Linked DNA regions of Homo sapiens. The protein of the gene in region 3 interacts with the protein of the main gene of each other region in a biochemical or structural test. Each region holds a gene or a part of one and is shown on either strand. Other genes may lie near its edges. The genes, in order: TARBP2, DHX9, EIF2AK2 and PRKRA.

The links.
Region 1: the proteins of EIF2AK2 (region 3) and TARBP2 form a complex in vitro, tested with the Homo sapiens proteins (2 studies listed by BioGRID, with this or other methods).
Region 2: the proteins of EIF2AK2 (region 3) and DHX9 form a complex in vitro, tested with the Homo sapiens proteins (2 studies listed by BioGRID, with this or other methods).
Region 4: the proteins of EIF2AK2 (region 3) and PRKRA form a complex in vitro, tested with the Homo sapiens proteins (3 studies listed by BioGRID and IntAct, with this or other methods).

The regions. Positions count from the first base shown.
Region 1 is NC_000012.12:53,496,911-53,504,282, reverse strand, and holds the start of TARBP2 (RISC-loading complex subunit TARBP2), read right to left. Parts: upstream 3,001-7,372; 5' UTR 2,875-3,000; coding exon 2,822-2,874; exon of another isoform or gene 2,744-2,821; intron 2,698-2,743; exon of another isoform or gene 2,575-2,697; intron 2,269-2,574; coding exon 2,099-2,268; intron 1,257-2,098; coding exon 1,154-1,256; exon of another isoform or gene 1,071-1,153; intron 571-1,070; coding exon 475-570; intron 1-474. UniProt on the Homo sapiens protein: Required for formation of the RNA induced silencing complex (RISC). Component of the RISC loading complex (RLC), also known as the micro-RNA (miRNA) loading complex (miRLC), which is composed of DICER1, AGO2 and TARBP2.
Region 2 is NC_000001.11:182,877,335-182,884,353, reverse strand, and holds part of DHX9 (ATP-dependent RNA helicase A), read right to left. Parts: intron 6,334-7,019; coding exon 6,181-6,333; intron 5,105-6,180; coding exon 4,944-5,104; intron 3,858-4,943; coding exon 3,746-3,857; intron 3,091-3,745; coding exon 2,929-3,090; intron 2,835-2,928; coding exon 2,707-2,834; intron 1,216-2,706; coding exon 986-1,215; intron 835-985; coding exon 719-834; intron 1-718. UniProt on the Homo sapiens protein: Multifunctional ATP-dependent nucleic acid helicase that unwinds DNA and RNA in a 3' to 5' direction and that plays important roles in many processes, such as DNA replication, transcriptional activation, post-transcriptional RNA regulation, mRNA translation and RNA-mediated gene silencing.
Region 3 is NC_000002.12:37,153,972-37,161,921, reverse strand, and holds the start of EIF2AK2 (interferon-induced, double-stranded RNA-activated protein kinase), read left to right. Parts: upstream 1-4,941; 5' UTR 4,942-5,014; intron 5,015-7,950.
Region 4 is NC_000002.12:178,448,176-178,455,886, forward strand, and holds the start of PRKRA (interferon-inducible double-stranded RNA-dependent protein kinase activator A), read right to left. Parts: upstream 3,001-7,711; 5' UTR 2,856-3,000; coding exon 2,791-2,855; intron 2,583-2,790; exon of another isoform or gene 2,269-2,582; coding exon of another isoform or gene 2,237-2,268; coding exon 2,067-2,236; intron 1-2,066. Other genes in the region: PJVK (pejvakin), read left to right, coding at 4,269-4,394, 5,256-5,445, 6,157-6,352. UniProt on the Homo sapiens protein: Activates EIF2AK2/PKR in the absence of double-stranded RNA (dsRNA), leading to phosphorylation of EIF2S1/EFI2-alpha and inhibition of translation and induction of apoptosis.

The DNA.
Region 1 (7,372 bases), on a different chromosome or scaffold from region 3:
CGGGTGGGGAGCTGTCTGTCCACACATCTAGCCTGCTCCTCCTGCTCTAGCCGGCTTCCTTCCCCCTCCCACTCAAGGGAGGCCTTCTCCAGGCCCCAGCCCATTTCCATTCTGGAACACTTGGGTATCATCTAAGCCAGGACAGTGGGAGAAGAGCTGTATTTCCAGTCCCAGAAGTGCCTGATGGGCCTCAAACACAGAACTGACATGTGGTCAACCCAGAAGAAAATGGGGCCTGCAAGACCCTTAAACATGGTCGGACATCATTCATAAGGCTGTCTGAAAATCACAAATGACCTCTTGTCCCAAGAGCTTACCAGCTGCTGTGATTTCTTCAAGTTCTGGTTCCCAACTATTCCATTCTGTTTATTCTCAGACTTCCTCATGCCTGACCAGCTTGGGTCCAAGGACTGAGGGACCAAAAACCAGAACCCCTTCCTCCACCCACCTCAGGCAGTCAGGGGACACAGATACCTGGTTAGGACTACAGATGGAACTGGGGTAGCAGCTGCTGCAGCAGTAAAAACCGGAATGTCCTCAGGCAGTGAAGAGTCTAGGGGAGAAAAAGAACTTCCCGAGGGGAAGGGGGCCTTTGATTCACACCCATGTATAGGGGGAAGAGAGGGGTGGGGGACCCACGTCCTCCTGACCTCCCAATCCCCTAAGAGAACTTCCAAATTGAGCCAAAGAATCAGGGAGGCTCAACCAACAGCTTCCTCCTCGGATCCTTTGCTGCCAAACACCGGCGAAAAGACTGAGAAAAGAGAGTCTCAGAGAAGAGGGTATCTTTGTACCCAAGAACCAGAGGAGCAACAAACTCCAACCTGCGCGTGAAGGAAGGACATCTTGCTAGAACAAGGAGGTATGTTGGGGAGTAACTCCCTTTAGCCTCAAGCCTCTACCCCTCTCCCTCCCTAACCCAGGCCCCAACCTACTGCCACAACCCCTCTATGGGGCTAACCAACCCCTCCACCCCAAGAATTCTTCATAGCAGCAGAAGCCCTGGAAAACCCTGTTCAGGTCCAGAGGGACTCTCAGGAAGAGGCCAGGTCAGGGTGGCTAAGTGTCACCTGGCCAGGCCTCGGGGCAGAGTGGGTGGTGCAGGGCCTGGGTTCCTTGAAGGGCTTCTGGGATGCCTCGGTTCCTCCCTCACCTGCTGTCCTCCAGGGCCGGCTCCAGCATGCTCCCCCCTTTGAGGTGTTTGAGGGCCACCTCAGCTGCCTTGTGCTTGGCTGCCTTCTTGCTGGGGCCCTGACCTGAGAGAGGGGGCATGGGCAATACTGGAGGTCACTGAAAGGACGGGAAAGAAACCAGCATCCCACAGCCTCTCTCCTCGTAGCCAGAGGGAATCAATCAAGCCCCTTCTGACCAACCTCCCCCTGCTGAAGACTGGAAGTGTTTCACTAATTGCTGGAAGGAAGAGCCCTTATCTTTCCGTTAGCTTCCAGAATTAAGCCATGCCAAGCAGGACTTCTGAGCTCAAACGCCTTGGGTGGACTTCTGAGCGCAAATGCTTTAATTTCCTTTGCAAAGCACTTTCTTTTCCCTCAATAAATACAGAGAGCTGGAATAAGAGAGGGTAGGCTCTGGAGTAAAAGCCCCACTCTGCCACATACTAGGCATGTGACCATGCACCAGCCATTTACTATCTCAAACACTCAGTTTCCTCATATTCAACATGGGCGGGCGGGGGGAGGAGTCGGGGGGGCGGATACTACCACCTACAATCATTGGTTAGACTGAGGTTTAAAATTAAACGGGAATTTGGTTAAGCACCGGGAACAGAGCCCAGCACGCCAGGCACTCACTCCCCCAAATACTCCACTGGGATTTCAGTTATCTTCTCTTACTTTTCCTCTAGGGTGATGGGGATCTGCCAGATCACTGTGGGAGTCCTGCTCGCTCCTCTAACTCTCCCACGTCCTACCCACCTTCTTACAGCCCTGTTCTCCCAATCCAGTCAGTAGCTTTTCCCCTGAAATCTCTCCTTCCCTCACTGGCCTTGGAGAAAAGGACTGTGAAGAGAGAGACTCCAAGAAACAAAGCCATGGGGACCTGCAAATGCACACCCCAGCCAGGCTGCCCAAGCCTTCCTCACCAGTGCAGCTGGTGTCGCCAACGGTGACCCGGAAGGTGAAATTAGGCTGGTGGGCTTGGCCCTCGGCTTTGAGAAGGTCGTACACAGGCGTCTTCCCTATTCTGGTCCCATACTCCTGCAGAAGGCTGATCGGGGTCTTGCCTGGGTTGGCGGCCAGCATTTGCTCTATACTGGGGGAAGGGGCACAGACCCACATCACACCTCCCCTCTCTGCACCCACCTAGCCAAGCACTTCCATACCAGACCTAGGCACATTATGGGGGACATAGGGTCCAAGGAACCCCAGACAGTCTAGCATCCATTGGCTGGGTTCCAAGTGGAGGTGCAGGCTGGAAAAGTAGGGCCCACTACCCCAAAGCAAGGGGGGAAGAATGCATTGCTCCTGCCTCAGTTAAGGTGGGCACGATCCTGTGCCCCAATGCAGGTTGAAAGTGCATACCCCCTGACACAGTGCAAGCCAGGAACCCAGTACCCACCAAATGCACTGAATGTGGGGGCATAAAGCCCAGTGTTCCAGTGCAGTCTGGGAACCGGGCCAACCCCAAACTATTTAGAGCTGGAGGCAGCAGCCACTGCCCCGGTGCACGCCGGGAACCACTGCCCACTGCCCCAGTGCTTGCCGGGAACAACCCTCAGGCCAGGTGCATGCTGGGGCCGCGCCGCTACTCCCTCCGCACGGCCCCACGCTTTTCGCCCTGAAGGAATCGGTACGAGACGGCTCACCTAGGCAGCCCGCAGCCCGTGGTAGTGCCGGAGCCTTGCTCCTCTTCACTCATTCCCTCCTCCGTCCCCGCGGGCGCCACCGTGACTGCAGCCTCCACGCGCCCCAATACACAGCCGACGAGCTAGGGCCGGGGCCAAGCCCGGAGTCGCGGCCGGTAGGGCCCGCCGCGGGGCACGCTGGGATATGGAGTCCCCCGCCCACCCTACTTCGTGAGCCTCCATCTGGAGGGGAGCTATCCGCCCCACAACCCTCTGCGTGCGTGGCTCGCCCGGGCAGGCTGCACCGCCTTCTGGGAGGAGCGGGCCCTCCGCCGTCGCTTCTCGAGAAGGCCGTATTTTTTTGTTTGTAATACCGTCCCGCCTCCTTCCTTCCGCGCCCCCTCTCTCCCGGTCCGTGAAGCTGTGGACATGCGTACTAGCGGAGGGGAAGCCGCTGGGTAGGGAGGCGGTAAGGACTCACTTGGGCACGGAGCCTTTTGGATCGCGAGAAAACTACAGAACCCAAGAGCCCGCGCGCCATCTGTGTCGCAGCTGGAGAGGCAGGGTCAAGCACGCACGAGAAGCTTCATGGCGTCATTGGTTACTCCCATTGCGATTACTTCCCCTAGGTGCACTGAGATTGGTTACTTCGACTAAAGGGGCGGAGACAAGGAAAAGTCAGCCCCCCCCGACCCCGCCTCCTTGATGAAGGAAGGTTGTGATTGGTCCGGAGAGGCTGCCGTCGGATCCTGGCTCTTTGCGGTCTGGGAGGGTGGGCCTTACCTAGACGCCGGAGGGGACCGATCTCTGTTTCCGCAGGGCTCTGGAGCTGGTGCAGGTTTAAGTCCGTCTCAGACAGTCCCCTCAACCCACAGCCTAAGCCCCTTGCCCTTGGGCCTCCGTGACACAGAACTTGCTTCCTTTTCCTAGGTCGTCCTTCACCTCCCTTCAGGTGTTGCTTCTTTTGTGAAACCTTTTTAGAACCGCTCTAGTGAACCTCTCTTTAACTGGCGAGGAAACCTCTGGGGCCTGATAATCAGGCTGTAATGTGGGACGACAGGATTAGAAGGACTAGGCACCTTGGTGGTCTTGTTCCCTCTTCCATGAGTCTTGGGTCTCTCAGCTGAAGAGAGCAAAAGTGAATTTTGGCCGCCTAAGATTAATCAACTGATCTGGGTGTTGAGCAGACGCGCATTGTTTAGTCCTAGAGCCCCATTGCCTCCTCCCCCAAAGTTGCACAACCACTGGGCTGAGGGAAATCTTGTGACCTTGGAGAGAGAAAGGGAGAGACCACATTAAAAAAAAAAAAGGTTCTAATGAGTGTTCTGAGAAGGGGTCAAGAAAGATGTCTTACTCTGAGCCGGGGTTGGAGGTCCAGAGGAATCTTGAAATGATAATGAGGGGTCATCCAGGAACACTGGAGGAGGATGGGGCCTAGAGCCGAGTGAATTCCAAGTGGGTGAAATTGGAGTGAGTGGTGACAATCAAGGGAAGGAGAGCTGGCAAGATCGGTATGATAGGGGGAGCAATGCCAGAGCGCTAGGGATCCCAACTGAGGGGCTGCTCTCTCCGATGTAGAAAGGAGTCTATAAGACGGGTCATAGGGGGTTCCTGTGGAATCAGCCTGAGGCCTGAGGTGGGACCTCCATAGGACACCGCCAGCAGGGAGGCGCGGGGCCCAGGCGGGCCAGGTACGAGCCTGGAGCGCGCCGGATGGCAGCAGCGGGCTCCTTTAAGAGGCCGGCGGCTCCATCGCAGCATCCCCCGCTCAGGGCGTGTCCGTCCCGGGGGGCCAGGGGCGGGGGCCCTGGAAGGAGCGGGAGTTCAAGCCGAGCAGGGACGGGGCTAGGGGTCGGGGGGTGGGGGCAGAAAGCTGAAGCTGACACCCGTGCATCCGGACACCGCACGAGCATCGCCTGTGACAGCGCCCCGGGTCCGGTGGAGGGCAGCGGGGGGAGGAGGGAAGGAGGAGGAGAAGGAGGAGGAGGCGGGAGCAGCATCCGGAGCGGAGCTGCAGCAGCGCCGCCTTTTGTGCTGCGGCCGCGGAGCCCCCGAGGTGAGAGCCTGGCCGAGTTGTGGGGGGGTGGGGGGCAGGGATGGGTCTGGGTCCTGGGATCCGGGCGTGGAGGGAGGGTCGGGATGCAGATGTGGCCTGGTGCGGGGTGATGGCGTGGGGATGCTGAGGCTGTGGGGATGGAGGAACTGGGGACCTGGACCCGACGCCTGTGGGGCTGGGAAGGAAGGGAATGGAGCGGAGGGATGCCGCGGCCCAGCTTGGAGACGAAGGGCCTCCAGAGCTGGAAAGGACCGTATTGGGGTGGGGTGGAGGATGATTGGGGGACAGACTTAAAGGACAGAGGGCAAGAGAACATCTCCTCCCACTCATCCTCAGGAAGAGAGAGAGGGAAGGAGGAGGGAGAGTTTTGGCCCCCTCTAGGGAAGGAAAGGAAGGGCAAGGACTGATATACCCACCATCTCCACACACACACACACACACACACACACACACACACACACACACACACACACACACACACACACACACACACACACACACACACACACACACACACAGCAGGCTGGACCTGAAGATTAGTCAGAGAGCACCTGTTCCTGCATGCCCAGGCGTTGGTCCCCCTCCCCTTCAAGCTGTGATCCTCCTAATCCCCTCCAGCTGTGGCATTCACCTCCAGCTGTGGCATTCACCTCCATCCAGCTGTTGCATCCTCCCCTCCCCCATTCACGTGTGGGTTTCTCCCTCCTCTTTCTCTCCATCTCCTCTGGCTCCCCTAACCCATCTCCCCCAGTCAGGCCCTCCAAAAACCTCCTCCCTTTCCCACAAACACTCCTCAAACTCATTGGCTTAAAAATAAACAAGAGTTGAGACTTGCTGGTAACCAAGGCCTTGACTGAGAGGAGGGAAGAGTCAAGGCTCTGTAGACAGTGGGAGGAAACAGTGAGGTGTCCCTTAGAATTAAGGGAGGAGTCCTACCTTGTAGATGCTCATCTGCTGCCTTTTTCAGAGGAGCGTAGGTGAGTGGCCTCCAATCAGAAGGGAGTGCACATGAGGTCTCCTCACCCCACCCAGAGTCGTCTCAAGCCACAGTCAGTGCATCCCTCTAAACACATTTCCCTTGCAGTTCTCAAGGTGGACTCCATTGCTCTAGGAGCTCTGAGTTTCAGCCAGAGGGTCCTACCAAGCTAAGGCTAACAGAAAGGATTTAGGAAGGATAGGACTCAAGTGCCCCCTGAGCCTTCCTGTCCAGACACTGAAGTTTCTCTGAGCTTTAGGGCCCCACTCCCTCCTATCTCACACTTACAGGTGAAAAAAAGTGTGTCCCCTCAAGCGTATCATTCATCCACTCACTCCCATTGTCAACTGGGGTAATGTTAGGAAAACCCCAGCTCTCAACATGGAGACACCAGCTAAATATCCATCCCAGTTATGGACAGAGGAGGCAAGAAGTTAGACATGGCTCAGGATTTCCTAGGCTTCCTTATAGCTGAAGAGGGCAGAACCCTTCTAAAAACCAATTGCTTTTCCCCTCGTGGTGACACTGTGGTAGGATCAGGCTTTTCTAGGAAGAGGACTCTTGGTTCTACCACTCACAGCCCGGACTCTCGTAATGCACAGTCCTCCCTCTCCCCTGCCTGGATCTGGAGAGAAAGAAGGAATCAACCCTGTAAGAAGTCCTTGCTAGGGTGGACTGGAGATCACCCCTACATTCAGGTCCTCAGCCCTACACCAGTCAAGCCCTGGGACCCCCAGCTGCCATGCTTCTTCCAGTGAGGTGGAAATGTCTGCCCCTCACGCCAGCCACTCATGCATTCACTCACACTGTTGACTGAGGTGATGCTGGGAAGAAGGAGGATACTGTTGAGATGATGCCAGCAGGGGACATAGGGGCTTCATGAGGGCCTGGCCACAGAGACTGGTCTGTCTGGTTCATTGGCTCCCAGAAGGACTGGGGTCATATGTGTGCGTGGAGAAGGTGAGGAGACTGTGACAGTGACCAGATTCCAGAGGAGGCTAAAGATCATTCAGGATAGAGCCCTTGCCCTTTGGTTTCTTCATTCTTTGGTCTTTTTTTTCCCTCTTGTTTCTCCACCTCCCTTTCCACCCATACCCTCCCTACTGGCACTTGCTTTGAGAGAGAGAACAAGGGAAAGAAGGGAAGGGAATCACATTCATAAAAAACTTACAAGTGTGTGTTAGGCACTTTCCATATGGCTAATGCTTATAGAGAGCTTCCTGTGTGCCAGGTCCTGGGCCAAGAACTTTATTTTGATTTTCTTAATCATGCCCGTAACAAGACCAAGTGAGATAGTGTTATCATCATCTCTGATGGAGGAGAAAACTGAAACTTAAGTAATTTGTTTAAAGTAAAAAAGTTAGTATGTGGCAAGAGGTAGGATTTGAACCCAGGTCTGTGTAACCCAGAACCTGTGTTCTTACCCACCACATTATGTACTGCATTGCCACTGTGGGACATAGGTACCACTGTCCCCGTTTAGCAATGAAGAAACTGAGGTTTGTTGAAAAGTCTCAGGCCAGGTCACCCAACTGGCCAG
Region 2 (7,019 bases), on a different chromosome or scaffold from region 3:
AAATATAATAAAAATATATGCAATATATAATAAACAAAAAACAAAGTCCAGCAATATGGATCATTCAGACTTTCTTTTTTTTTGAGACAGAGTCTTGCTCTGTTGCCCTCGCTGGAGTGCAGTGGCGTGATAGCTCATTGCAACCTCCAACTCCCAGGTTCAAGTGATTCTCCTGCCTCAGCCTCCAGAATAGCTGGGACTACAGGTGTGCGCTACCACACGGGGCTAATTTTTTTGGATTTTTCGTAGAGACAGGTTTCACCATGTTGTCCAGGCTGATCTTGAACTTCCTGAGCCCAAGTGATGTGCCGCACCCAGCCAGATCATCCAGACTTTAAAATAATGAATTTAAGAGACCCAGAATACTGGCATTTTCTAGGTTTTCAAGAATATGATGGCTGAGCCTACTGGCTGTCCATTAAGCTCTATTCCATTTTTGCCCAGTGCTTACCACTAGTTTTGAATCAATATACAGAGTATGTGAAAGGGTACTCAAGCTTCACTTAGATTCTGATTCCATAGTGGTGGTGTGCCTAGTGGTAGACATGGCTCAAATTCCTAATGCATTTGCTTCTACTGGTATCAATTTAAGATTAAGTATATAGTATATAATTAAGTTAGATATAATTAGTATATAATTAAGTTAGATTAGCAGCTGAATTCCATCATATTGTAATTCTAAGAATTCAGTTTGGAGTTCACATCTGAAAATCCATACCAGTCATCTACAAGCACAATCTGCCCATCAGATTGGACTTTCTTGGAGGCAAAGAGAAGCAACTGCAGGGGGGTGACTAAAGTCATGCCTTTAGCAGAGATGGCTCGAGTTCGAATCTGCAAATGGAGAAAGAGACAATACAAAATGGTTGACATTCCAACTTCCAAATACCGCTATATACTGTGCTTTGAAAATCAAAATTCATGTTCCTAATGATTGTAAAGACAATTTCAACTTTCAATGTAAACTTTTCTAGTCTTTTCTTACCTTTTCACCAAATACAAAGAAGGGAGATGGGTACTTCATGTCTTGGCTACTAAAAGGACAATTAACAGATGATTTGTGGATAAGTGCATTACGCCCTTCAGTGGTGAGAATCTTCCTCTTTTCCTTATGATAGCATACATTGGGGTACACACCAAAGGCCAGGAGGGAGATAACAACATCCAAATTATTATCTGGTCCAGTGTTAGTAAACACTTGTGTCAACAAACAATCTGTTAAGAGGAGCACAGTGAAAACAAAAATCAGATAACTGGCTGATCTTCACATTACATGCAAACTATTTAAGATAATTCAGAGAACTGACTCTTCCTCACTCTTTTCACATAACCTGTCTGTAAAACTTTCTCTTCTCAGAATCCTTACACCCAGATTAAGTTCAAGGAGTAATGTTACTGAGTTTCCACAATAAGAAAACGAAAACGTCTCTATTCTCTTATAGACTCAACCATAAATAAGCTTGGGGTGATTACTTTTTTTTTTTTTTTTTGAGACGAGTCTCGCTCTGTCGCCCAGGCTGGAGTGCAGTGGCGCCATCTCTGCTCACTGCAAGCTCTGCCTCCCGGGTTCATGCCATTCTCCTGCCTCAGCCTCCCAAGTAGCTGGGACTACAGGCACCCGCCACCACGCCCGGCTAATTTTTTGTAGTTTTAGTAGAGACGGGTTTCACCGTGTTAGCCAGGATGGTCTCGATCTCCTGACCTCGTGATCCACCTGACTCGGCCTCCCAAAGCGCTGGGATTACAGGTGTGAGCCACTGCGCCCGGCCGGGGTGATTACTTTTTAAAGTCCCCCAATCAACCATCTACTCTGAGAATAAGAGCTTGACTGATAGGACCACAAAGTATTTATCTGCTACTCTTAAATAGCTGTTAGTTGTAGAGAAGATGGAGATAATCTAAGAGGACACCTACTGGAATGAAGGCTGACGTTTTTACCCAGTCTACACTTTGAGTACTTAGCTACTGACTGGAAAGCATGACAGTCAACCGCTGAAAGCACAGACATATTTTGTTCTAGACAAACGAGTTCTAGTCTTATAGCCTCCTAATTGGATGAATTAAAGACAATTTATACCTTGGTGCCTGTTTCATTACCTGTAAAATTCATCTCAAGATTCTAGCACATGAAGTTTTCCCTTTCTTATAATTTTGAGGAAAAACTAAAATTTCGGCTGGCTTATGACAGAAGAGAACCACTCACTACTTTGTTTAGTTATTCCAATTACAGCCTTTAAAAATTTACCATCTTGCCCAACTACCTTCTGTCTCTCAACAGTCTTATTTCTGGTTATGCATTCCAGTTCTCAATGTTTTAGGAAGTAATTCTATATTTTAACCTAGTTGGAAAAGAAAAGTACTACAGCTCATCAAGAAACATGGGTTGGTTTTTTTCTATGTTAGATGTCATAAAGTCCTTTAATCATCTGTACACCGAAAGTATAAATTAAAGTCATTTAAAATTTAATGTGGTAGAATTTACTTCAAGTCTAAATGCTAATAAATTACTTTGCAAACCACTATAAGGTTATCAGCAAAGTACTCATTCTGGGAACTAGACCAGTGTTCACGAGAACTAAGAAATAGTCGGGAATATATAAAAATCATAGGGTCTAAAATTTGAAACTAAAATACACTTTGCTGTCAATTTGCATGTACTATATAAATGTCACTTTAAAGATATCTTAAGAATGGAAGAAGTCTTACCTTCTGGAAACCCAGAATTAATCAAAATCTCTTTGAGCTGAACTTTGGCTTCCCAAGTCATTCTTAGTGTAGCCATATTAAGTCTTTTGTGCTCACAAAAACGTATCTCTGCTTCTTCTCCACCCATTCTAAAATAAATTGGCATGAGAAATCATTCTCTAAGACCAGAGAACTAAATACAAATGAGAAACTACAGACAGCTCACCCAAATCTTACTCATACCTAGCATCATCCCAGGCTTGGAATACTGATAAAAGGGCTACGTGATCAGAAAATCTGTTTCCAGCAAAATTTCGATGGATATAGCCCAGCCGCTTTCCTTCATTGATGAAAGGCTCTGGAAAGCAGGTAGCAGCAGCAATGGTACAGATAGCATCTCCCACGCTGAAATACACAAAGACAGTTAAATCCAGACTAGATCACAATGTTGTTGCCAGCAGCTCAGGTAGGACTGTCGACTGTGGGTTGCAGTCTTTATGGCTATGATTCTACTTTTATTTGCAATGAAACTGGCTTAACAAAGAACTTTATAGCTGCTCTCTTCAGAATCAGAAAGAAAAAAATGCTCTGATGCTCTAATGGCCACATATTTATCATAAATTATGACCAAGTATATTTTTCCTTTTATATTCTCTCTTCCCCATCATACCAAATCTCTTAATCTTCAACATTTTCTGATAAAATAAACCTCTTTTCCTGACACCGCTCTTTCAAGACCAACTATTAATAACAAGGGACCCTCCCACCCTGGCCTCCCAAAGTGCTAGGATTCAAGGTGTGAGCCACATTGCCTGGCCTGCTTGCTTTTAACTTTTGAGAAATCAGTGCCCTTTTCCCCATATTGGGCCCAGATATCCACCTACTGGAACTGTTCATTTTTTTAGTGTTACACTGCTCTCAATATCTAGGTATGTTACTTCCCTGAAGAACATTTAGGATTTTTTTTTTGTCTATCTGAGCCAATACTGCTTTTACAGGGAGGAGAAGATTCTGAAATTATTCTGCCACTTAACGAAGAGAAATAAAACAAAGCACTTACTAGAAAATACACCCCATTATCATCATTTTGCCAAAACGAGGCTCAATGGGGAGTTTAGCCAGGATTCGTCCCAAAGGAGTCAACTCATCATTGGCATCTAATGCATCAAGCTCTGTGGGGAGATAGTTCTTTGTGAGCAGAAACAAATGAACACTAATTTTAGGCAGACAAAACATTACTCTAAATTAAGGTTAAGACAGTTTAGAGTTCCTCTTTTGTCAAGCCAATCGCTAATACCATGTCTACGGCCAACAATTCTCTGTACTCAAAAATAGAACAAAATCAAAATCTGGAGCACCCAACATAAAGGTACTACAACTAAATCCTGTAGGTTATAAAAACAAATACAATTCATATGAAGTCTATAAATACAGTATTAACTATAATAGCAGCGTAAGTTTCTACATGCCATAAGAAGTCTGATACCCAGCTGTTAATGTTTTAAAAAAAATAAAATCTAGAGAAAATTCTGAAGTTACATAGTAGATAAATGCTAGATTCAAAATTCAAATTCAGATCTAGCTCCAATGCCCTTAATTTTCACTGTACCTCTAACAAGTTTAGCAAGAAAAAATAAATGTTCCAGGCTGGACACAGTGGCTCCTGCCTGTAATCCCAGCACTTTGGGAGGCTGAGGTGAGTGGATCACTTGAGGTCGGGAGTTTCAGAAGAGCCTGGCCAACATGGTGAAACCCTGTCTTAGTAAAATATAAAAATTAGCCGGGTGTGGTGGTGTATGCCTGTAGTCTCAGCTACTCGGGAGGCTGAGGCAGAAGAATGGCTTGAACCTGGGAGGTGGGGGTTGCAGTGAGCTGAGATCACGCCACTGCACTCCAGCCTGGGCAATGGAGCGAGATTCCGTCTCAAAAAAACAAAAAAAGTTGTAAGAGATTCATATGAAATACTGTGGGTATCATGAGTAAGTTATGTTCTGATCTTTAGTACATAGTTAAGAGATGCCTTTTTAAGTTTTCTTTTCTTTTTTAAAGACTCACATTGTCCCTTTCTTCCTTCTCATTGCTCATTAGAACAGTGACTATACTAACTATCTAAGGTAAGACTGGAGGCCTTACTATTATTATCACAGCCCTGTTGACTACATCTTCATCATCTTGATTCATTTGTAAGTGTTATCTGCCAGAACAAGACAGATGGTATGATTAATATCTGCGTCAAGTAGGTTTGTATTTGTAAGTACCTCTAAGAGTGTGTTCTGCTTCAATCACAGCATCCAAAGGGGGAGGTTCAATTGCTTTGGCCAGAAATTGGCCAATTCCTCCTAGACGCAGAAGTTTTATGCTAAGAGCAATTTCATGCAATGGTGTTCGGAACATCTCTGGTGTCATGTGGGTTTCAAGTCTAAGAGAAAATAAGCATAAAATAACCATCCTCCTTGTGTATACACAGATGTTAATAAACTTTTTGCAGCAAGGTAATCAGGGATACAGAGCTGCCTTTTCCTCATCCTTTTATTTTACAATTACCATCGGACCTTTTATCGTTCACTATACACACTGTTGACAAAATTTAATCTGGTTGCATAGTGGTTTCTGACTTATCCTCACAGCTTGATAGCCTTTTAGGCTGAGAAGAAAAATGAAAAAATTATCCAAAATCGCGAATGTTATTAGCTCCACCCATGGTCTCTTCAGGCCTTGCCTGTTGACAAACATGGGTTAAAAACGACAACAAGACTTTTTGTAGGATGATAACTCATACTAACATTTCTCTACAACCTCCCACCTTCCTAGTTCATGTAATTTTAGTGCCACTAGAAAGGCTCTTATAGATGTATCTTTAAAATCCAAAACTTTTTGACTTCTGACATGACACTTAAAGGAAATGCTCATTAGAGCGTTTTGGATTTCATATTTTCAGATTAGGGATGCCCGACTGGTAAATACAATGCAAATATTACCAAGAAAAAAAATCCAAAACCACTTCTGGTCCCAAGCATTTCAGTTTTAAAAGAGATATCTGACCTGTATAAATTAACAACAGCAAACACTTATTGGGAGATCATGATGTGCCATACACTGTTCAAAGTATTTTACATTATTAAATCATTTAATACTTATACCAACCCTATGGGTTAGGCATTATTTATATTCTTTTTACAACTGAGGAAACAAGAGAGGTTAAGTAACTTAATATTTTATAGAATGAGGGAAATGCAGGCCTAAGGAGTAACCACTTAGTGTTATACAATGTATTAGGCACAAATAATATTAAAATCTAGGTCTCTATATTTCTAAATCTGGCTTATTCTCTAAATGATTTGTGATGAAGATTCTTACGAAACATTTACACCTGATTCCAACATGGCTGGCAAGACTTAGATCAGCTTATATTGGCAGGTTTACATAACTGCACACATCTGTCCCTACAGAGAACAGAACAAAAATCCCTTACTAAAGGTCAAGAATGGGTCTTACCTCTCAAAACGAGCTCGGCTGCACAGGTGAAAGCAGAATCCAGGCCGTACTCGGCCAGCTCGCCCTTTCCGTTGCTCAAGGTTTGTTTTTGATGCCCATACGGTAGCATAGTTGGTCATATTGTTGTGAGCAGTGAAGAGTTTCACTTTCTGCCTACATAGGAAAAAGTGGTTAATTCTAAGACTCATGTGTATTATCAATAACTATTATATATCCACTAAGTAGTGAATGCTTTCCACTATGTAGTTAAAGCCATACCTACTTGTGATGTCTATTCATGAATGGCACAAGTAAGAATCAGCAATCTGACTGCAAACTCCTAGTTGTCAACCTACTAAAAGGCAATGTAACATCCACTTGCCACTTATCAGCTGAACTGCCTTGGCCAAACTTTGCATGCCATTATCTACCTTATAGTTTTTTTGGTAAACATTAAATAAATTAACAAATGCAAAGCATTTAAATGGAATATGGCACATACACAAAAGAAAGTAATTATTTAAGTCATCTCTATTCCAAAGTTTAGTGTAACTTTTAGGATATCTGTATCTAGTGATGCCTGTGTGGTCCATTTGAACCCCCAAGTAACCTCAGATTCCTTCAATGTTACATACAGAGACAGCTGCCACTAAATGACTGGGATTGGCACAGAATGCTATTCATCATTTCCTAAAATGGATGTTGGCAGCAAATTGTTTTCATTGTCAGGACAGACTAAGGAATTATAAAGAGAAGTCATGGGGTACAAGTTGGCCAGATATAACCAAGTTTCAACTTTTTTGTCCTTTCAATTTATCAATTACCATGTAATTCCTGTATCTACACAGAATGTCTCCTGG
Region 3 (7,950 bases):
ACAACTCATCTTAGTGTCAAAGCAGCCATAGACAATATATAGATGAATGAATGTGGTTGTGCACTAATAAAGCATTATTTACAAAAACAGGCAGCAGCCCAGTTTTGGCCCAGATCTATTCTAGACAATGAAATAATTAGCGAATAAAACAGTCAAAAATCCCTGTCCATGTGACTTTACATGTCAGAGGAAGGAGAAAACAAAGACAATAAATCAATAAGTTGTATTGTATAATAGAAGGCTGTAAGTGCCATGGAGGGGAAATAGAATAGAATGAGGGGGATAGGGAGTGACAACAGGGTGACAGTAGTGATTGGAACTTAAATAGTGTAGTCAGGGGGCTTCGTGAGCAAGTGACGTTTCAACAAGATCTGTGAGTTTTGCAGATATCTGAAGGATGAGGTTCCAGGCAAAAGGAAGAGCAAGTACAGAGGCACTGAGACAGTAGTATACCTGGCATTCTTGAAAAACCACAAGGAGGACAATGTAACTAGAGGAGAATGAAAGAGGGGCAGAGAAACAAGAGACGAGGTTAAAGTGGCAACCAGGGTGCAGGAAATATAGTGTCTTGTAAGCCCTTGATGATTCTGGGCTTGACTTTTTTCTTTCTTTCTTTCTTTCTTTCTTTCTTTCTTTCTTTCTTTCTTTCTTTCTTTCTTTCTTTCTTTTCTTTCTCTTTCTTTCTTTTTTTTTTTTTTTTTTTTTGAGACAGTCTCTCTCTGTCGCCCAGGCTGGAGTGCAGTGGCATGATCTCAGCTCACTGCAACCTATGCCTCCCAGGTTCAAGCAATTCTCCTGCCTCAGCCTCTGGAGTAGCTGGAACTATAGGCATGCACCACCATGCCCAGCTAATTTTTGTATTTTCAGTAGAGACAAGGTTTTGCCATGTTGGCTAGGCTGGTCTCGAACTCCTGGCGTCCAGTGATCCACCCACCTCGGCCTCCCAAAGTGGTGGAATTACAGCCGTGAGCCACCACGCCCGGCCTTCTTTCTGTATTCTGCATGATGAAAGGGACAAGGCAGATCTCTGGGGCCTCTTTTATAAGAGCACCAGTTCCACCACCCAAAGGCCACACCTCCTAATACCATCACATTGGTGATTCGCTTTTAACTTATGAGTTTTAGGGAGGACACAAACATTCAGACCATAGCGATGATTTTATAATAATGTGCATGTGGGGACTATTGACAAGAAGAGTTTATAAGTAAGCAAGACAAATTACTAAAGCAGAAACATCTGAGGAAAAGAGCCACAAGAGATATGGTACAACATAAATATGGACCACTCTACAATTTCCAAAAGCAGGAATAACAGTTATTATTTTTCCTCTGCTAGTAAAAAGAGAATTAAGAATAATTGATACATACGATTCTTCTATCTGTGTCTGATTCGTTGCTTTAGCATTACACATTTTGATCTAAAAGTCACTGTATTAAAAGAGATAGACTTATGGGATTGACTATAGGTCAATAACCATACTGATATTCACAAAGAGTTACGTAGTAAGGCCTGAGAAGCCCATGTGGATAAACTCACACATATCCTCCATTCCTGCTGTCACAGCCTCTTTATTTGTTGAAACAAGCACAGGGATAGCTGGGGAAAAGGCTAACAGAAGTCTTCTTGCTCAACTGCTTCTCAAAAGCCTCTTTAGAAGTGGTTGCCTTTGGTGAACATTCAAAAGGGAGCCCAATATGCACACTCTGCCCATTCGAAGTGGTTCAAGCACATCATTTCCCTAGACCTCATCATCAGCCCTCTGATATCATTCCTTCCAACTCTCTGAACATCAGCTGCATTGCCAGCCACTGGCTCTGTATAAGCCACTGAAGGAGGGGACTTTGGATCTTCTTGGGGTCCATGGTTAGGAAGTAAGTGACTAGGTTGCATAAGATGAATCTACTCCAATATTCCTGACTCCCTAAGTATTTTTGATTTCTTCATCTGCATTACTTGGCATTACATTTACATTTAGTGTGAGCTGCCACTGAGCTGATATTATAGTAAACCAACTGGGCAAACTGGCTTAGCGCTCCCACTGCTAGAGGCAGTACATCAACTTTCTTTCTTTTTTTTTTTTTTTTCTTGCTCTGTTGCCAGGCTGGAGTGCAGTGGCACGATCTTGGCTCATTGCAACCCCGACTCCCTGGTTCAAGCGATTCTCCTGCCTCAGCCTCCCAAGTAGCTGGGATTACAGGCACATGCCACCACGCCCAGCTAATTTTTGTATTTTTAGTAGAGACGTGGTTTCACCATGTTGGCCAGGATGGTCTCAATCTCCTGACCTCATGATCCGCCCACCTCGGCCTCCCAAAGTGCTGGGATTACAAGCATGAGCCACCGCGCTCAGCCTCAACTTTCAGCTTTCTTCACGTCATCTTTAGACTCATTGCCATGTCTATTTCTTGCTTTCTGTTGCTCTTTTGTTGTGTAAAGCATCACCCCTCCATCAGATCTTGTCCATATCCTCTTGGGGCGCATTAGCATCTGATTCTAGTTCTAGGAGTGAAGGCACAGGTAGAGATAGGATATTTGGAGAATCAGCACCTCCTTGCAGGGTGACTGTTTCATGCTTTTTAATGTAGGCTGTACCAGCCTTATCAGACAATGGTGGGAAGCCTGTGGAGACACAGCAGAATTTAGGAGGGCAGTGGCACTTGGATTCATTCAAATCCACCCAAATTCCCAGGGCTTCTTTCTTTCACAATCAATGCCCTCAGTGTTCACAGAAGAGACCTGATGAGGCTGCAAATGAAAATTTTTGTTGTAATTCTAGGCTGGGCGCGGTGGATCACGCCTGTAATCTCAGTACTTTGGAAGGCCGAGGTGGGGGAATCACTTGAGGTTAGGAGTTCCAAACCAGGCTGGCCAATATGGTGAAACCCCTTCTCTACTAAAAATACAAAAATTAGCTAGGTGCGGTGGCACACGCCTGTAATCCCAGTTACTTGGCAGGCTGAGGCAGGGAAATTGCTTGAGCCCGGGAGCCAGAGGTTGTAGTGAGCCAAGATTGTGCCACTGCACTCCAGCCTCGGCAACACAGCAAGACTCTGTCTCAAAACAATTATATTGTAATTCTGGTGCCTGCAGCACCAAGCTTTGCAGCTGAGAGCCCAGACAGTAGGGAATTGGGCTCCTCAGGGAGTCCAATATGCTCACACTTTACCCATTCCAAGAGGTTCACCCATATCATATCATTCCCCTGGACCTCATCACCAACCCTCTGATATCATTCCTTCCAAATCTTTCCCCAGCAGAGAAGGCAGATTTTTACATCACCCCTGAGGCTCCCTGAAATAGGAGGGTTTTCTGGTACAGTCATAAAAGCGTGTGTCCTCTGATCATGCTTAAGCTTGCCATTTTTCATTCTTTAAGCTCTCTTGGGCAGTTCAGGGGCTCAAAAAGTCAGAAAAACTTGTCCTTGCTACTGCCATTGCTGCTGCCACAGCCATCCCACACCCACAAAGCTGACAAATGGACACACAGCACTGTCAGAGTTTTCTTGTCACCTGGAAATGCCACAAAAAGATGGCTCTGCCTCATGTCTACCTTCTAAACCTCCCGCCAGTGCTTTACATATAGGGGACTTAAGCTATGCCCAGGACCAGAGCTACAAGGAAAGTGTAGATTTTAGTTGTTGATACCCTGCAATGTGGGGTTGTTGGGGGATGGAGAAGGGAGGCTGGAGAGGATGCCTGCCTAGGTGTAATTTTTTTTTTTTTTTTTTGAATTGGAGTCCCACTCTGTCACCCAGGCTGGAGTGTAGTGGCATGATCTCAGCTCACTACAATCTCTGCCTCCCAGGTTCAAGCAATTCTCCCTGCCTCAGCCTCTGGAGTAGCTGGGATTACAGGTGCCTGCCACCACGCCCAGCTAATTTTTGTGTTTTTTAGTAGAGACGGGGTTTTGCCATGTTGGCCAGGCTGGTCCTGAACTCCTGACCTCAGGTGATCCGCCCGTCTCAGCCTCCCAAATTTCTGGGATTACAGGCATGAGCCACCGCGCCGGCCTAGGCATAATATTTAATGTATATTTGAGGTCTGTCTTTGGACCACCTTCCTCTCTTATCCCAGCTAAGATACTGAGAGTACAAACTCCTGGTTATAATTCTAACTCCGCTGCTTACTACCTGTGTTAATCCAAATTCTCTGTGCCTCAATACTCATTAGTCACTGTGCCAATGAACTCTGGAACTCTGTGTGACTCTGGGAGTGTGTCGCAGTCCATCAGGTGAGTAGAATTTCTATAAATCGAGGACTACTGGTGTTGGACTATGGTAGGAAGCTCCCTGGGGTACTGTAGGAAGCAGGTGTCTCTATTTAGCAGCAGGACTGGCCCACAGGTGCTTTTACAGCGGCTGGCAAGTGTCTGCTCATGAATGAATGGATGGGTGGGAGCGGAGTGAAGGAGATTACGCCCCCAGGCCTCTGATCCCCAGGCTTGTAAAGGTGAGGGGGCCGCGGTGTGGCAAGAGGGAAAGAGTGCTTTGGTGTTTACAGGCCCCGACTTGAACTGAATCCTGGCTTTGCCACTTACGAGCGGCAGGACCCCTGGGTGAGTTCATTTACTCAGTTTCCTCTATTGTAGAATGGAGCTGGTAAGATCCATCTTCCCAACCCCACCCCAAATATTTGTGTTGAGAGTAAGTGGAACCCTTGATTCGAGAACCTAGTGCGGCCAGCGGACTAGGCCAGCGGAGAACCCTAGGAGCCCCGGGGGCGGGGGATGGGGGTGCAGGGTCCTGGCCGTGCAGGGGCAGCACGTGGGTGCCAAGCCCGCCTGCCGGTGCCAAGCCCGCCCGCCGGTGCCAAGCCCGCCCGCCAGTGCCTCTCGCGCGCACTCTGGATCCAGCGCCAATTTACCCCAATCCCGTAGCAGACGAGGGCTTGTGCGAGAGGGGGCCGGGCGGCTGCAGGGAAGGCGGAGTCCAAGGGGAAAACGAAACTGAGAACCAGCTCTCCCGAAGCCGCGGGTCTCCGGCCGGCGGCGGCGGCGGCGGCGGCGGCGGCGCAGGTGAGCAGGGCAGGGGGCAGCCGAGGGAGCGCGGGGAGCGGGGGCCGGGGGGCCACGTACGAGGGGCTGCAGGCCCAGCCGGGGCGGGACTCGCCAATCCTGCGTCCCCAGCTCAGGACGCGGACGCTGATCCGAAGCCCCTGGCCCCGGCTGGGTCAGCACTGGGAGAGCAGGCCCAGGTCCGCAGCCCGGGTGTGGGGCCCTCCCCAAATCCAGGGAAAGGATCGTGGAGCGGGGTGGGGACTGAAAGCCATTTCCTTCCCGTGAAGAATTTTTATCAGTGCAAGTAACAAATATTTCCCAGGCAGCAGTTGTGGGGCGGGGTCTAGTGGAAGACGAATAGGCCTAGTGGCTTGACACATGGAAAATACGGAGGCCTGAAATACTCATAGACTGGCTGAACAATCTTTGGCTAAAAATCTCTTCCGTGGAGAGTTGCAGTAGTTTCCCAATTGCCTGGCCGCAGTTCCTGTTCCCACTCCGTATCCTCACCCCTGAACCTCCACCCCCTACCTCTTCTCCACACCTCAGCATCTGGAATGTTCCTTTAAGTAAGAACCAGACTCTCCCCTGCTCCGACCTTCCCCGTAGCTTTCCTGTCTCATCAGAATCCTATAAACATTTATTAAGGCTCACAGGCAAGGCCCCTCGCACCCCCTACTCCGGCCACGCTGGCTTCCTTGCTGTTCCTGGTGCACAGCCAAGCATCCTCCAGCCTCTAGGCCTTTGCACTGCTTGTTTCTTCTTTCTGGAAAGCTTCTTCCCCAGATAACTGCATGGGGAAATCCCTCCCTTATCCTGCACTGCTTCCCATGCCAGCTTATCAGAGCAGCCTTCCTCAAACAACCTGCCTATACAAGAAACCCCGCTCTGCCCTTGCTGTTCCCCCTTCCACTACTTCGGTTGTCAACATAGTAGTTATCACCTGGTGACATTTTCTTTCTTTTCTTTTCTTTTTTTTTTTTTTTGAGACAGATTCTCACTCTGTCGCCAGGCTGGAATGCAGTGGCACGATCTGGGCTCACTGCAACCTCTGCCTCTCAGGTTCAAGCGATTTTCCTTCCTCAGCCTCCCAGGTAGCTGGGACTACAGGTGCCCGCCAGCACAGCCAACTAATTTTTTTATTTTTAGTAGAGACAGGGTTTCACCGTGTTGGCCAGGCTGTATGTAGTCTGCTGGAAAGGAAGTGGAGGCATAGCCAAAATAATTTCTGGGCATTAGTAAGATGGACAAATATTATTTTTTAGTGATTATGATGGAGGTTTCTTCCAGATGAGTGAATAAGATGTAGAATCTGCTCCCCAAAGAGCTCACTAATTAGTTTAAAAAGCAGTCAGGGCTGTGTTGAAGGTTGGGCAAGGTGGAGTGGCAAGCCCATACTAGCTGACCCTCCAGCATCAAAGAAGGCTGTGTTGATCCTGATAGATGAGTGGATATTGGTGGGTACAGAGAGAATGCAGATATTGCACTATAAATGTAGAGAAAAGCAGGTGACAAGTCCTGGATGGGGTATCTGGAGATATTTTGGTACTCACTCATTCATTATTGAGCCTGGTCCCTTACCTGTAGTAATTCATGCTCTATTTTGGAAAATAGTTAAATAAGCAATTTTAATAAAGGGGATGAGCACTGTGGAAGAGCCTGTGAAGGAGTGTCTGGGATTTTGAGCTGAAATCTGTAGGAAGTAGAAATTGACCAGGCCAAGACAGCAGAAGGAATAGAGTCAAGGGCATTTTAGGAGGGAGCAGGTTGGACAGAGGCAGTTGGGAGTTCAGGAGAGAGTCCATGGTGGAAGCGTGCTTTTGAGAACCATCATTGTGTCCGTGGAATTTAAAGCCACAAACCTGGAGGTGATCACCAGGGGAGTGAGTCCAAGTAGAAAAGAGCAAGTCTAAGGACCGGGCCCAGTGATGCTAGAATATCTAGAAAAGAGGAAGTTAGAACCATAGAAAAGGTTAAAAAAAAAAAAATAGAAGAAAAGAAGTTGAAGATGAACCAGGAAAGGAGACAGAAAAGGAGTAGCTTGTCAGAACAGAAGAAAACCAGGCCCAGGTGCCATGGCTCATGCCTGTAATCGCAGCACTTTGGGAGGCCAAGGTGGGTGGATCACCTGAGGTCAGGAGTTTGAGACCAGCCTGGCCAACATGGGGAAACCCCGTCTCTACTAAAAATATAAAAAATTAGCCGGGCGTGGTGGTGGGCGCCTGTAATCCCAGCTACTCGGAATGCTGAGGCAGGAGAATCGCTTGAACCCGGGAGGCAGAGGTTGCAGCGAGCCGAGATGCCACCATCACACTCCAGCCTGGGCAACAAGAGCGAAACTCTGTCTCAAAAGAAGAAAACTAGGAGAGTGGGTGTCTTAAAAGTCCAAGCTAAGACAGGGAGAGGAGGGCGAAGAGGATGCGCAACCCCATCAAATGCTGGTTGTAAGTCAAGTAGAGAAGGACTAAGAACTGACTACTGGATTTAGTGATAGGGAAGCCATTGGTAACCTCGACAAAAACAATTTCAGTGGCTTGTGGAGACTGCATGATTGAATTGATGTTTTTTTGTTTGTTTGTTTTGTTTTTGTTTTTTTTTTTGAGACGGAGTTTCGCTCTTGTTGCCCAGGCTGGAGTGCAATGGCACGATCTCAGCTCACCGCAACCTCCACCTCCTGGGTTCAAGCGATTCTCCTTCCTCAGCATCCCGAGTAGCTGGGATTACAGGCATGTGCCACCACCCCGGCTAATTTTGTATTTTTAGTAGAGATGGGGTTTCTCCATGTTGGTCAGGCTGGTCTTGAAGTCCCGACCTCAGGTGATCTGCCCGCCTTGGCCTCCCAAAGTGCTGGGATTACAGGTGTGAGCCACCGCGCCTGGCCACTGAATTGATGTTTTAAAAAGATCATGATGTGGCTGTATTAAAAAAGAAAACAGATAATAACAAGTGATGGT
Region 4 (7,711 bases), about 140 Mb from region 3:
CGGTCTGTATCTTCTGCATGGGTAGCTAAGTTGGGACTGGGGATAAGACTGATGTCTAATTTCAGTAAGCAATCACAATGGCAAATGATAAATTCCATCTTTTTCCTTTTAAGTTCAAACTCCCATACCCTCATGGAATAAGTTTCAAGTGTGGCCTTCAAGTGTGGCCCTCAAGTGTAAGAAGACACAGAAACCATATATTTATCTGCTAACACAGGTATTAGGGATATAGCATACAGGGTCCCTGCCCTCAAGAGCCAACAGAGTAGTGTGGGATTTTTGTCTGTTAATAGGCACCTGAAGTATGGAATGGGATATGTTACAACAAGCCTAAGTGCAGGCTGTAGCGGAGGTTGCAGTGAGCCAAGATCATGCCACTGCACTCTAGCCTGGGTGACAGAGTGAGACCCTGTCTCAAAAAAAAAAGAATGAACACTGGTTGTAATGTGACAAAAGGACATCACAAGACTAGAAGGTAAACGTGTAGCTACAAGACTGCAGCTACAATCCAAGTGAGAGATGATGGTGGCCTAGGCAGTAGCAATGGCCAGAAGAGAGAAGCCGACAGATTCAATGGATAGTTAGTGGATTATTAAACGCCAATGGATAGAGTTTAATAACAGACTGGACAAGAGGGAGAAAGACGGGAAGTAGTTAGGAAGACAAAAGCCTACATTTCTACTGAACTAGGTGATTGTGGAGCCTTTACATAGAAAGGGAATGCAAGAAGAATGGGTTTGAGGGAAAAGATGGATTCAGTTTGGGACAATGAGAGGCTTGAGGGGCCTCTGTGTCATCCAGGCAAAGATGCTCAGCAAGCACAGACTGATACACTATTCTGTAACTGGGCTTGGGATGTAGACAGACATTTCAGAATATTAGTCTTTAGACAGTATCAGAAGCCATGGAGGCAGATAAGCTTGCACAGGAAGCCATGGTAGTGTGAGAAGAGGGCGTAGGCAGAACGGTTGCCATAGGTTGTTAATTTGGGGTCTAAAACACATTGAGAGGGAAAAACCCTCCCTTTTCTTGAATTCTTCCTATCTAGAAATAGACTAGCTAAAGTAAGTAATGCAGTGTTGACTCTATGGTTCCCATGGGGACCCTTCCGGCCAGCACCTACAATCTAACTGCCTCACACAAAAAGTTTTAAACTTTTCTTAAAGTGGCATCAATTAAAATAAAAGACTCCAAACTTCCAGGGACACAAACAAATGCTGTCTTCAGATTTTCCAGATGGTAGAACTTGAGCCTTCCTACTAAATTTTTTTCTTGGCATTCTTCCAAATTAAATTTAGCATCCAATGTTTTCTGTGTTTGCAATTAAATAGATACATAAGAAAAATAATGTCCACATTTACAAATGAGCAACTTTAGTTATCATTTGCTCAAGCTCACAGACCAAAAGAAAGCATGAACTTTAAAATTTCATTGCTTTGTGACTTCATTGCTATACGCATGTTACTTATAATCTCTCTGAACCTGTTTCTTCTTGTTTAAAAAGTGGATAATATACAAAATATCTGTTCAGTTTCAAAAACTAGAAGTTATTATGTAATATATGAGGACCTTCTCCCCTTCCTCATTTTGTTTGGATACAGAATCAAAAGTAGCACAATGGACCTAAAGTGCCAAATGAGTCCATACAGAGAGGAGAGACGCTCAGAAAATTCTGGGGTCATGCCTCCTGGCATCCGCTATAATCTATGAAACTTCACAGTACCTACTGACCCAGCTATGACTGCTCCAAGAACCTTTCCTGCTTCCCTCTAATTCTAAGAAGAACCCTAGGAGGATCCTAGGGTATGAGAAGAGCCATGCAGGATCCAGCCATCCGGCTGGGTAACTTTTTAGTTTCTAAGCTTCCTTGGTATGTGGGGAAGAGAAAATTAGGAAGAGAATCAGATGCAGCTGAAAAGCCCTAACGACCTGAGATGAGAGGTCTCAGTTTCAGAGCCTGTTCCTCACAGCTGTCTGGCAAAAAGAGAACTTTTCCGAACTGAAAAGCAACACCAAGTATTGACTGCCAACCCACTCGGTCATCCAGGTTAACTGTGTATACAGACCTGTGCAGGTTATGTCACCAACGGTTACTCTGAAGGTGAAAGTGGGCACGTGTATTTGCACATCAGATCTTTCACATTCATAAACTGGGATGTTCTTGGTCTTCATGCCGTATTCGTGTAATACCTGAATCGGTGTTTTCCCTGGCTTAGCTGTTATCATCTTCCCCAAACTGCAAAAACCACAAAAAGGTGTGCTTTGCATGCCAAATTGGAGATTGAAGCAGAAGCGTAGAGGCCAGTTTTAACCGCCACCGACGGTGACGAGGGAGGCGCCGAGTTCCCCGGAGGCCAGGGCCAGAGCTGGCGAGGCTGGGGCGCACCTGTCTTCCGGCCCCGCTGCGGCAGTCACTCCGCAGGAGCAGGCGGGGTGAGCGAGGTCTTTAGAGAGAGCACTTGAATGCGGGTAGGAGAGATTCTCAACAGAACAGGGCTGGCAGCAGCGCCGCAGCCTCTCAGGGAAAACCTGACGATCCCTTCCCGGGCGCGCCGACCGAGCGTCACCTCCGCCCGCCCCGCGCGCCGCCAGGGACCACGAGAGGGGCGGGGCCCGGCCGCAGACCCCAACCCTCGCCGCCGAGAGGGCGGGGCCGAGCACCCACAGCCGCGGAGGCGTGGGCGCCGGGCACGGCTTTACCCAGAATGCCTCTGGAGGGCCGGCTCCCCGCGCCCCGGCCCTGCCGCCCAACGCTCCCGGCCCTGGGGCCCTGACTGCCCGCACGCTGACCTGAAGGTCCCACTGTCCTCGCGCTCCAGCGGCGGGGCCTCGGCGCGGTGCCTGCTCTGGGACATGGCGAGAAGGGACGGCTCAGCGGCTGGAGGAAGAGCGGTGCGGAGCGACGTGCTCGCTCCCCGGGTCGCTGGTCCCCGGGAGGAGCTCCAGCGCCGCCACCTCCTCCGACTCCCCCGCCTCCTGCTTGCGTTGCTCCAGCGAGGGGGCAGGCAGGGTGGGGGCGGAGCCTTGGTGCCGTAGCTCCGGCTACGCCCCCTCGCTGCTCCTCTGCGGGCCTCCGTCCCGGCCCAACTCCGCCCCTGTCCCTTCCAGGGTCCGCCCCCTTCCCGCCCGGCTCCGCCCCGCTCCCGCGTGGGCACAGGCATTGGGCTCCCGGGGGTTCTCCGCGCCCGCCCCTGCCGGCCCTGACCAGCCTGTAGTAACTGGCCCCTAGGCCGCAGTTCTTTGTCCTTAGCAGGAGGCCGTTTCTTGCCGGGAGAGAGGGATTAGAGGGATTGTCCGGCGTGGGTCTAGGGTCGTTGAGGCCTAAAGTTAAGCCTTTGTGGGGAGGACGGATTGGGGGCTGGGTCACTTTAAGAAAAAGATTCTAAAATTACGAAGGCAGAATTCCAGGGAGTCTCCCGGGCCTGGTCCTGAAGCTTGAGACCCCGGATATATACGCTCCAGGGGGCTGCGGTGCGCTCTTCGGGTCCCCGAGCCCTGTGTTTAGGAACACGCGGGGACGTCCAAACACCCGCTCCTCTCCCGCCGGGCGGGCTCCTTTGTCTTCTGGGCTTTCGTCGCGAGATGGAACGCTGGGTCAGTGCATCCCAGCAAAACACGTTAGGAGTAAACGAAGGCCTTTCCGGGGACCTGGGTAGTCGGTTGTAATGGCGTTTGCCTGGGATGCAGCACCTTTGGTGGGCCATTAGATGACGTGTCGCTTCTCCAGGGGCTTGCTAGGCACTAGCAGAAATGCTCCCCTGTGCTTACTCGGTGTTATGGAAGATTGCTTGCACAATGCTATTCGTACGAAAGGATATTATTAAAAGTGATTTATGGGCGGGCGCGGTGGCTCACGCCTGTAATCCCAGCACTTTAGGAGGCCGAGGCTGGCGGATCGCCTGAAGTAAGCAGTTCGAGACCAGCCTGGCCAACATGGTGAAACCCTGTCTCTACTAAAAATACAAAAATTAGCCGGGCGTGGTGGCATGCGCCTGTAATCCCAGCTACTCGGGAGGCTAAAGCAGGAGAATCGCTTGAACCCGGGAGGCAAATGTTGCAGTGAGCCGAGATCGCGCCACTGCACTCCAGCCTGGGCGACAGAGTCAGACTCCCTCTCAAAAAAAAAAAAAAAAAAAAAAGCGATTTGTTGTTTTGTTAGCATGTAAGCCCTGGATGCTTGAAACAAGTGAAAGATGTTCAGAATCTAATCAAATTATATCATCTGATGCTTTAATTAGAGCCTATTCTCTCTTCCTCTCCGTCTATATATGTATGTATATAGATTACTATCCATCACTGTTTTAATGGATATCTTATTGGAAGGGCTACATAGTCAGTATTTCACAATATATGAACTCCGCATAACACCTATGGCAAAACATTTCAGCACTCAGGTAAAATTCATTTTTTGCCACAAAATTACTTAAAAACAGGCCAGAACTTTATATAGCTCTTGTTAAAGGTTAAGTAGCTGGGATAATAATGAAACAAAAAGATGCAGCAGGACTCCATTTCAAAGAGAGAGAGTCTGTGTGCCCAACTTCAGAGTAAGAAACCACTAGGTAATAGTTTATATAGTTACTTATATGTAATGTGGCTTTATTTTTTAAATAAAGATTTGCATATAATTGTTTATATCTGTGAATTTATATTTAATATTAAACACAGTTTTGTAAGCATATAAGATGGAAAATGAATGAAATGCTCAATCAATGAGCTGTATGCCATGAGGATTCAAAACAGCACTTTGGTGTTGCCAAAATTCCGGTGGTGGACTTGTGAAGGAATTCCCTTTGGACTAGGTCCACTGTAGATTGTATCCGGGACTATCGTTAGTGCCTAAATTGCATTGCTTCCCACAGCACTATATGCTTCCCTTAAAATTGGCCCATTGCCAGTGGCAAATCACTATCTACTGTGATCCTTATCATAGACATTGGTCATATTTTTACGTTATTAGTTTTCTGTGTATATTTTAGTGCTATAGCCTGCCATTCCAAGTTAAACATGCTCTTAGCATATCATTTTACACCGTTGATCTATAATTCATTACCTGAGCACATGAGCAGAGGCAGGGAATTATACAGTGGTAAACTACTTGGTGAAACCATGCTTTGTATTTTTAAGATGTATAATTATATTTAAAAACAAGCAATGCTTAATTTTGTGCCTGATTTTCCTCTTTAAAAATGGATTTATCTGGGGGTTGCAGTTGATGACGTTTTGATTTTAATATGTTTGCTGCTGCTACCAAGAGCTTTGTCAAGCAAGTTGGAGATGGAGGGAGATTAGTTCCTGTTCCAAGCCTCAGTGAAGCTGACAAATATCAACCTCTAAGTCTGGTGGTAAAAAAGAAGCGATGCTTTCTGTTTCCTAGATATAAATTTACTTCAACACCTTTTACACTGAAAGATATTCTCCTAGGAGACAGAGAAATTTCAGCTGGTAAGTTTAAATGTTTGGGAGTGCCAACTCATTCATCTGTATTATTGGCAACCTAAACATAGGTCATATATGCTACTTATGTTAGTAATACACATTTTCAATGATTAAAGCAACTTTTATTATGATGTTAGTGTAATAACATTATTAAGATTAACAATGCCAAAAGTTTGTATAATATCAAATCTCTTATTGGTCAAATAATTTTCAAATCTATCAATTATTTTATAAATTGTTTTAACCAAATCAACTTAGAATATGACATATTTCTTCATCTATAAAATGGGATATTATTTGGGCTTACCTATGTTACATGGTCAAATGAGATGAAAATAATTTGTATTTATTTTTTACAATTCAATTATTACAATTGGTAAACTGAAATGTATTGAAGGGTAGGTTATATAATAAGCTGATATTTTGATGAGTTACTACTTATAAACGCTTATTTTTTCTTTTAATTGCCCGGTGGATCTTGATGCTTAAGAAGTTCTGTTGGCTGAATAGAAAATTTGAGTTCCTTTTAAGAATTCTGGCTATGTGTTTCTTTTTGTTGTAAGATTAATTGAATTACTACTTTAAGTCTTGGTGAGTCATGTTGCCTTTCTCTAACATTTGGGTATTTGAGTCTTCAATTGTTAATTTAACATGTTACTATATATAATCTACATAAGATAAAGATGTTTAAAAAATACTGAGTTTCTTCTTATAAAGGTATTTCATCTTATCAATTACTGAATTATGAAGATGAATCAGATGTTTCACTCTATGGAAGGCGAGGTAACCATATTGTAAATGACGTTGGGATTAACGTTGCTGGATCAGATTCCATTGCAGTGAAAGCTTCATTTGGTATAGTAACCAAACATGAAGTGGAAGTATCAACATTACTCAAAGAAATTACTACACGGTCAGTATAATAATCCTAATATATTTCAGTGTTTTCATTAAATACTTTAGGTATATAAACTTCATTACAAAGAATGCTTAAAACATTGAGGTTGTATTTTACTAGTGTAATTTGCTAGATATGTTTGAAATACATTGGTAGTATATCCAAACTTTGAATAAGGATAGATATCAAAAATCACTTGGCTGAAGTCAGAGACCTCAGGGCCCCAGATCAAGGAGCTAACTGATGAAGAGGCAGAGAGGCTGCAGCTAGAGATTGACCAGAAATAGGATGCAGAGAATCATGAGGCCCAGATCAAGAATGGCAGCCTTGACTCCCCAGGGAAGCAGAAGACTGAGGAAGATGAGGAGGAGGAAGATGAGAAGGACAAAGGAAAACTGAAGCCCAACCTAGGCAACAGGGCAGACCTGCCTGATTACCGCTGGACCAAGACCCTGTCGGAGCTGGACCTGGCGGTCCCTTTCTGTGTGGACTTCCAGCTGAAAGGGAAGGACGTGGTGGTGGCATCCAACGGCGGCACCTCCAGGTGGGGCTCAAGGGGCAGCCAGCGATCATCGATGGGGAGCTCTACAACGAAGTGAAGGCGGAGGAGAGCTCGTGGCTCATTGAGGACGGCAAGGTGGTGACTGTGCATCTGGAGAAGATCAAGAAGATGGAGTGGTGGAGCCGCTTGGTGTCCAGTGACCCTGAGATCAATACCAAGAAGATTAACCCTGAGAATTCCAAGCTGTCAGACCTGGACAGTGAGACTCACATCATGGTGGAAAAGACAATCTATGACCAGTAACAGAAGTCCATGGGGCTGCCAACCTCAGACGAACAGAAGAAACAGGAGATTCTGAAGAAGTTCATGGATCAGCATCCGGAGATGGATTTTTCCAAGGCTAAATTCAACTAGCCCCTGTTTTTCCCTCCCTGAACTCTTGGGGCTGAGCTGCAACCACCCAACTTTCTTTCCCACTCTTCTCTGGGACTTGTGGGCCTCAGGGCTTGGGGCAGGCATGGGACTGGCCCAGGCACACAGGTCCCAGGGCATCAGGAGAAAGGCTGGGGCTTGGGGTCTTGTCCTCCCCAGTTGGCCTACTGTTACACATTAAAATGATTTGCCCAGCTAAAAAAAAAAAAAAACCACTTGGCTTAAACAAAACTTTTAATTGTTCCACAAAATTACTTTGGCTCTACACACATTTGCTTAATTATTAGATTTAAATAATACAGCAATCTGTCTGCAACAAATAGAGTCCCCTTCAACAGACTTTCAACAGACAGAGTGAAACATTCTGCATAAGCATGTTTTAAGAAAATAGAGAGGAGAGACAAATTATTACATTTCTTTTGGGTGTATTTTCTGACTAT